2 linked regions of the Homo sapiens genome follow. The protein of the gene in region 2 purifies or fractionates together with the protein of the main gene of each other region. This does not show direct contact. Each region holds a gene or a part of one and is shown on either strand. Other genes may lie near its edges.

What was found.
Region 1: the proteins of SUSD4 (region 2) and ITGA8 purify together in Homo sapiens (affinity purification with mass spectrometry; 3 studies listed by BioGRID and IntAct, with this or other methods). This does not show direct contact.

What each region holds. Positions count from the first base shown.
Region 1 is NC_000010.11:15,513,923-15,517,422, reverse strand, and holds the end of ITGA8 (integrin alpha-8 isoform 1 preproprotein), read left to right. Parts: intron 1-178; coding exon 179-265; 3' UTR 266-3,469; downstream 3,470-3,500. UniProt on the Homo sapiens protein: Integrin alpha-8/beta-1 functions in the genesis of kidney and probably of other organs by regulating the recruitment of mesenchymal cells into epithelial structures.
Region 2 is NC_000001.11:223,224,472-223,228,323, forward strand, and holds part of SUSD4 (sushi domain-containing protein 4 isoform a precursor), read right to left. Parts: intron 3,268-3,852; coding exon 3,123-3,267; intron 1-3,122. UniProt on the Homo sapiens protein: Acts as a complement inhibitor by disrupting the formation of the classical C3 convertase.

The DNA.
Region 1 (3,500 bases), on a different chromosome or scaffold from region 2:
GAACCGGGAGGCGGAGGTTGCAGTGAGCCAAGATCACGCCACTGTACTCCAGCCTGGGGAATAGAGAGCGAGACTCAGTTTAAAAAAAAAAAAATACATAAAGTGAAAATTCTTTGAATGAGGGGTTTCACAGGTTCCCAGAATGACGTGATTTTATAGCCCATCTTTCCCTTTATAGTGTGGATTCTTTGACAGAGCCAGACCTCCTCAGGAGGACATGACCGACAGGGAACAGCTGACAAATGACAAGACCCCTGAGGCATGACAAGAAAAAAAAAGAAGACCAAAGACCTCAAACACTGGTCCTGTTCAAAGAAAAAGAAAGAACATGAGGGTTAAAAATCAAAGCTTTCTGATACCTGACAGTGACCCAGGAAATGGAGGGGACCCTGGAAACATCACCTCATCTACACCGCACTTTGGAGAAATTGTCCTGGGTGCCCAGTGAGCCCTGTTGGAAAAGGAAACACCAAAGCTGGAGAAGCCATCAGCAATTGTGGAAGATTTTCTTTTGCTTTAATCGTTCTGTACTTGGCAGACACTTTGAAATGCGTATGGGAACGTAAGTTGCAGTCCAGATCAATCCAGCATAAGTTGCAGAGATGAAATGTCTGAATCACTATAGAATTTACAAGGTGAACTAAGGTGAAATGACTGATTTACTATAGAACTTAGAACTAAGACCACACCATCCAACACTACTGTATCCAATGGAACATTTGACACCTCCCTATGGAAAAGAAACATTTCTAAGGACATTATGGCTCAGGGAGACAAGCAATATGTTGTTGGTACTGTGAAAGTACTTTTGAAAGGACAAAAATAATCTTGTGAGTGAGGGTGAGAGTTTATTTATTTATTTTCCATGTCTCTAGGTTGAGAATCTGTCATCTAGAGAATTTGGAAATTAAGATTTGGTTAGCTAGTTTTCAAAATCACTCACTCAGTTTCCTCCTAAGAACCACTGTGTGCAGATAACTCATTTAGCAGAGCTTCTTCAGAATTTAGACAGTGCTAAGGAAAGGAAGATTGGCATTAGGAATCAGTTCTATTTAATACCTTGCTGCCTTCCATCTGAAATTCCTTTCACTCACATTATCCAGGGACTCACATCTGCTTAATTTAGCTTTGCAAGATGTTGCATTTATATTTCCTTGTATATCTTTCCATTGACTTAGTTAATACATGAATTTCGAGGTACTCTCTACCTTTGGAGTGTTTAAAAGTCATGGTAAAATGTCTAGAGTTCATTAATTAAAAAGCAATTTAACATTATGGGTAAACATTATTTTTAATATCTATAAGAAGCAACACTTCTTATAGATATTTAGCTTGGGATTAAATACCCGTTTTTCCTGCTATGCCTTGTACTTGTATACACAGAGAAAACATGTTGAATATAACTTAGACAAAAACATAAAATTATACAGGCATGAGCCAAACTGGGAAAACTGATTCCTAAAGATTTTTATTTAAAATTGCTTATTCCAACTTTATTACTTATTTTTACTGCTAATCTTTATAATATGTAACTTTGGAGAATAATCTTTTATTTAAGCTATTTTCCCATCATCTTGAATTTAACCATCACAAATTTTTTATGTTTAAAACTCTTGTAAATAATTCATAATCTTGTAATATTATCATTTTTGAAGTAAAATTGACCAGCCAAATTTATAGGTAGTCTGCACAATTTTGTATCCTTTTTTAATAATGAAAAATTACTATGAAGAAATACTGAACAAATTTTTATGTGCAATATTTTATAGACCTATGTATCTGAAGCATGTTTACACTGGCGTTTTTTTTTTTAATTAATTTCCTAAATGTTAAGTATGATAGAACAAGCTGACCCAAATCCTTAAGTTTACAAAGCTGTTGGAAAACTTTGTGTCCTGATTTCAACAATCACGCTTTGTTTGAAAGATGAGCCAAGCTCACAGACACTAAATTTTATGTCATGCCATAAGCTGGAGAGGAGCCATTTGGCTACAGCTGCGGAACTTCATTGAGGAGCAAATGAAAGGCACATGGACGAGCACGCTGGTGCAGTTCATGTTCTTCCTGCCTGTGAATTGAATACTGTCCTGGTAGCAGTTTCGGGTCGGTCAGGAGCTCAAGGCTGGTTTGTGTGGCTGACTACGGATGAGCACTGAAGTTGCCTCAAAGAATTAAGGGGTGTCCACACCAGCCTCTGGGGGTCTTTGGTGTTAGTCTTCCAGGTAGAGCTGGTTTTACAAGTAGGTGGCCATCTACAGGATGTGATGTGAGCGATGCCAGACAGCTCTCTCTGACCCCAGGTAATGCCCTGAATCTGGTGATCCTGGCTGATCTGTGACCAATAGAGATTAGCTCCTTGGGATTTGGGGTCCTAAAAGGTCCCTGAAAAAATGCACCCCTTGTCTTTAAGCCAACATTGGTGAAGGAACTGAGAACTCTTAGGGTTACATAAAAAAAGACCCCTGTTGAGATAGTTTATGCAGATACCTGGAAGGAACTAGAGATGCCAGGAGGAAGACTGAGACCCAGAATGAAGCAAGGCATGAGGGCTCCAAAGTGAACTGCACCATCCCAGAGTCTCAGCCAAGATGGCCCTTTCCTAGAGGGACGGGCACCTTCCACCTGCCCACAGGCACTGCTACCTATGGGAATTGCAGAAGGCCGTTGTACACACGCGCATGCACGCAGTGGCCCTCTGCCCTTTAGAATATGGAAGCAAAGTCTGGGTGCAGTGACTCACACTTGTAATCCCAACACTTTGGGAGGCCGAGACGGGCAGATCACCTGAGTTCAGGAGTTCAAGACCAGCCTGGCCAACGTGGCAAAACCCCATCTCTACTAAAAATACAAAAATTAGCTGGGCGTGGTGGCAGTCTCCTGTAATCCCAGCTACCTAGGAGGCTGAGGCAGAGAGAGAATCGCTTGAACCCAGGAGGCGGAGGTTGCAGTGAGCTGAGATCGCGCGACTGCACTCCAGCCTGGGCGACAGAGGGAAACTCTGTCTCAACAAAAAAATAAATAAAATAAAAAATAAAAAAAGAATATGGAAGCAAATGGAGAAAGGGAGGAAACTGAGGTCAGGCAAACCTTCCAGCAATCCGTTCTGCCCAGAGAACATACTGACGACAGAGAACACACTGAGCGTTATCTGCTTCTAGTTAGAGCATTGCCGATTGCCTTCATAATTCATAATGTGCTGTGCTCCTCTGAGGGTCTATCTGTATTTCTCTTCAAAGAATTCCCTTTTTAAATTCTTGCAGCTGGGTTTTAAGACACAATAATGGGGCAAATTAAGTTTTATAAACTTGGAGATTTTTATACAGTAAATAAAAAAATAATATGTACTAGTCACCCCTGAAACTGCATTCTTAGAACTCGACTCTTGTTTTATTTAAATACGTGCGTAGATATCTGTGAAGATTTTCATGTACCTATTTACCTTGTCACTAATAAAATTAAAACTGAAAGACTTGATGGCATACTTTCGGTTTATTTCACAT
Region 2 (3,852 bases):
GATTTAAAAAAAGAAAAAGAAAAAGGAAAGAAGGAAAAAAAAGGAAAGCTGTGAGCACTATGTCACTACCCCGTTCAAGCTACGCAGGCTCACCGCCACCTCCTGACCCCCCGCCACTCTTCTAAGCAAGGCCCGGGTTGCTGGTGTGAGGGCTCCAGGAGCGGCGGCAAAGTGAGTCTGCATGTCTGCAGGGCTCCCTCACGTGGGCGCGCACACAGTTCCTGGCCTGCTCCCTTTGCTTCTCAGCCCTCTGCACATTCAACACTGCCTGATTGGAGCCCGGGGCGTCTGACATCACAGCCTGGGCTCCGTGTGACCCCCATACTCTGCTCCTGGCCTCAAGAGGAACCCAGGGTGGCTAATAAGTAGCCAATAGAACTTGGTTTCTTCCTTTTTTTTTTTTTTTTTTTTTTTTTGAGATAGAGTCTCACTCTGTCACTCAGGCTGGAGTACAGTGGCACGATCTTGGCTCACTGAAACCTCCGCCTCCCAGGCTCATGCGATTCTCCTGCCTCAGCCTCCCGAGTAGCTGGGATTACAGGCATGCACCACCACCCCCAGCTAATTTTTGTATTTTTAGGAGAGACAAGGTTTCACCATGTTGGCCAGGCTGGTCTTGAACTCCTGACCTCAGGTGATCCACCTGCCTCAGACTCCTAGAGTGCTGGGATTACAGACGTGAGCCACTGTGCCCGGCCGGAACTTGGTTTCTTATTGTCTCTGCTGGGAACTGGTGCTGAGGGAGGAGGCCAAAGGTAAAATATGAGGAAGAGAAGACCCAGCTGGGTGGGCAGACCCTGAATCTCTGAGTGCTGGCGGCAGGGGCTCTAAACCCAAGAAGATGAAACGTCTGGGGGTGGAGGGGAAGCACAGGCTGTGCGTCTCTCTAAAGCTCAAGTCCACTGACTTTTTGAAACATCTTGCAAAGGCTTGGAGATTATGGTGGTGGACTCCTTGTCCCGCAGCTCTTAAAGACTGCCCAGAGAGGGCGGGAGACCACCAAGACCATGCTCTTCAGGGGGCAGAAGACAAGAGGCAGGAGGAAAGGAGGAGCTTGCTCCGAGCCAGACTGCTCTCCCTCCACAGCCACCAGTAGTTACTGCTTACCAGTAGTTACTGCTTCCTTGACAATGATGCTCCCTTCCTCTCCGGCCACTTCACTGTCTTGTGCTGGCCTCCTCTTCTCACTCAGGACTCCCTGCCTCCTCACCATCCCTGGCACCTCCATGTTGTCTAGGCCAGGGTGAGCAGACGCCTCTCTTCTCCATTTCTCACCCTAACAGTCCACACCCAGGATACAGCTCCCAAGATCTGGCAGCTTCCCCTCCACGTGTCCCCGCCATGCCACTCAGCTCCCATACACCCCTCGTCAACATCCCTGCAGGCTCTACTCTTGTGGAACCTGGAGAAAAAAAGTCCATTCTTGGTTTGCCCTTGAGATTCTTGTCATGCATTTGGATTCATGTCATGTATTTGAAGCCAACCTTCCCAAAACAACTCAAGAATAATATAAGATGAAAGACTCAAGGGCTGAAGAACATCAAATGAAAGGGTTTCAAGAACATTTTAAAAACATCTTAATATTTAGTGGATATCCTGGAAACTTTTCTTCCAAGCATATGTAGAAAAATAGCTCTGTGGGCTCTTTTAAAGTACTTGAACGCACTATCAATCACAGCCTTGTGGGTTGGCTTTCTCTTTGTAATCCTTAGGCCTTCTTGAGATACTGTAATTGCTCAATGATAGAACATGGTCCCTTGATGAATATATAATAATGTGGAAGACAGAGAGTGGATGGCAGGTTGGAGAGGAAGGAAGGTTTCAGCATCTTAGCAAGAGCTTGCTATGGCACCAGGATGGCACTGACACACCTCTGGGCCTGGGGAGGGATGCAGGTGACACCCACATCTAGCACACATTTGTGGCTGGGGAAAGAGGGATGCACCTATCAGGTTGTGACCATAGCGGGTCCCTGCTGCCAGGCAGGGGAGAATTGCTAAGTGAGGGAGGCCGCCCTGTGAGGTGTGAGGTTAAGGGCAAAGGCGGGTAGGTGCTGTCTCCAGCAGCTCTGCCCATTTCCTTCACTCCTCTCACAGCTGGGAGATGTGAGCAACACACTGCATTTTCCTGAAGGGAAGAGAGAAGTGGTTAATTCCAGGAGCCTCCTCCTCCATGAGCAATAGTCCCTTTTTCAGGTACATATGACTCTGGGGACTAGGCTGTCCCTGTGGGCAAAAAACAAATGCCCTTTTCTGAAGCATTAGGTTCTGAAATGAGAAGACTCTGACATGGCCACAGAAGGCAAGGAAAAGACAGCTTGTACCAATGGCCCCTGGCTAGTGTTCTGTGGTGTTTTGCTGTCCTCACCTCTTCTTCTCAATGTTCATAAACTTATCCTTTTGCTGTCTAAACTACTTCTCCCTCCAGGAACAATGATTTGCCAGCAGTAGTGCTGGGTGGCTCTTCTTTGTTCCTAAGGGTGCTGGTGCAGTCCTCTTTGGTGGTGATGACTTGAGGCTGAAGATACCAACCCGAGCTGATTGGTGCAGCTCAGAAGGATGTAGAAGCGCCTTCCACATGTCCCACTCCAGGGGTTCAGATAAGACTTCATGGTAGACTCTCACTAGCCCTTTCCTGATTGCTCCTGGAATCAGAAAAGTCTTTTCTCCTTCCTGAGGCTTCTCAATGCATAACACTTTTGTTCACACACCTCTGACCTGTGTCCCAGTCAGCTGTGTGCGCATCTTACCCTCCCTATAGACTGAGCTGTGTGGTGCTTCACTCCAGGGCCACATGCAGGGGGACCACAGTGGGAATGGTGCCTCTGGGTGGAGCAGTCCACAGCCTGTAGCCCTAACTCTGTGATCCCATCGCTAGCCCCCCATGATGCCCACCTGCAAATGGTCTACTGCAGGAAGGAGGGAGAGAGGTAGGAAAGAAAGAAAGAGGAAAATGAGGTCTGTCTCCAGCTTTGTGCTCAAAACATCCCAGAACATTGTTTTTGCTCTCCCCTGTTTCCCTTTAGAGCTTCAACTTTTCACTCATCACTTTCTCCCTCTGCTGCTAAGGGTAGCTGCATTGAGTCAGACCTTGAGCCACAGCTGCCAAGACATGACACTGACCTGGGGGGAAAGTGGGCCTTGAACTTGGTCTGGAACATCCTGGCCAGGATGACGAGCAGCAGCACCAGCAGCACACTGGTTGCCGTGAACGCCACAATCTTCCACGTGGTCAGGAGGGTCTCATGGGTGCTGGGCCACGTTTGCTCTGCATGAGGGAGAACAAAGCTGTACGTGAGGCTCCCAGACCATGAGAGGTGCCGAGGTTCCCCGTGGGCTCATTTGCTGGATTCATCTGGCACAAGAGATGCGTGCAAGGTGCCTCTGACCCCCAGGGCTCGGCAGAGATACCATGTGCCCCTGTAGCTCATGTAAATTGCATCAGGATCCACCCAACACTAAAAACCTGTCTCCAGCATGGGCTCTGCCAGGTTGCAGACCTGCATGCTCACATTCCAGTCCCAGGCGCAGGCCTGGCACAGGCTTAAATAATGCATCTGCCTCTTGAGAACAGAGGTGGGCATCTCTCTTGCCTGGAGAAGTTGCTCCGAAATGGACCAAGGGGTGGGGGAGTGGGAAGCTGGGCCCTTTGTGAATGTTCTGGGATATGCTGTGGGGTTGGGTAAAGCAAGAAACAGAGGGTAAAGGGGACCCCTGTTCCACAGCTCTCATGCCCTACCACCTCTAGCCATCAACTGCCTGCCAGGTCAGGGGCAGCAAGAGCAGACCTTTCCAGAAGAGACTTATCCTTTGGGCACAGGCCACCCTGTCTCTTAAATGTCTCTCTGCCTTG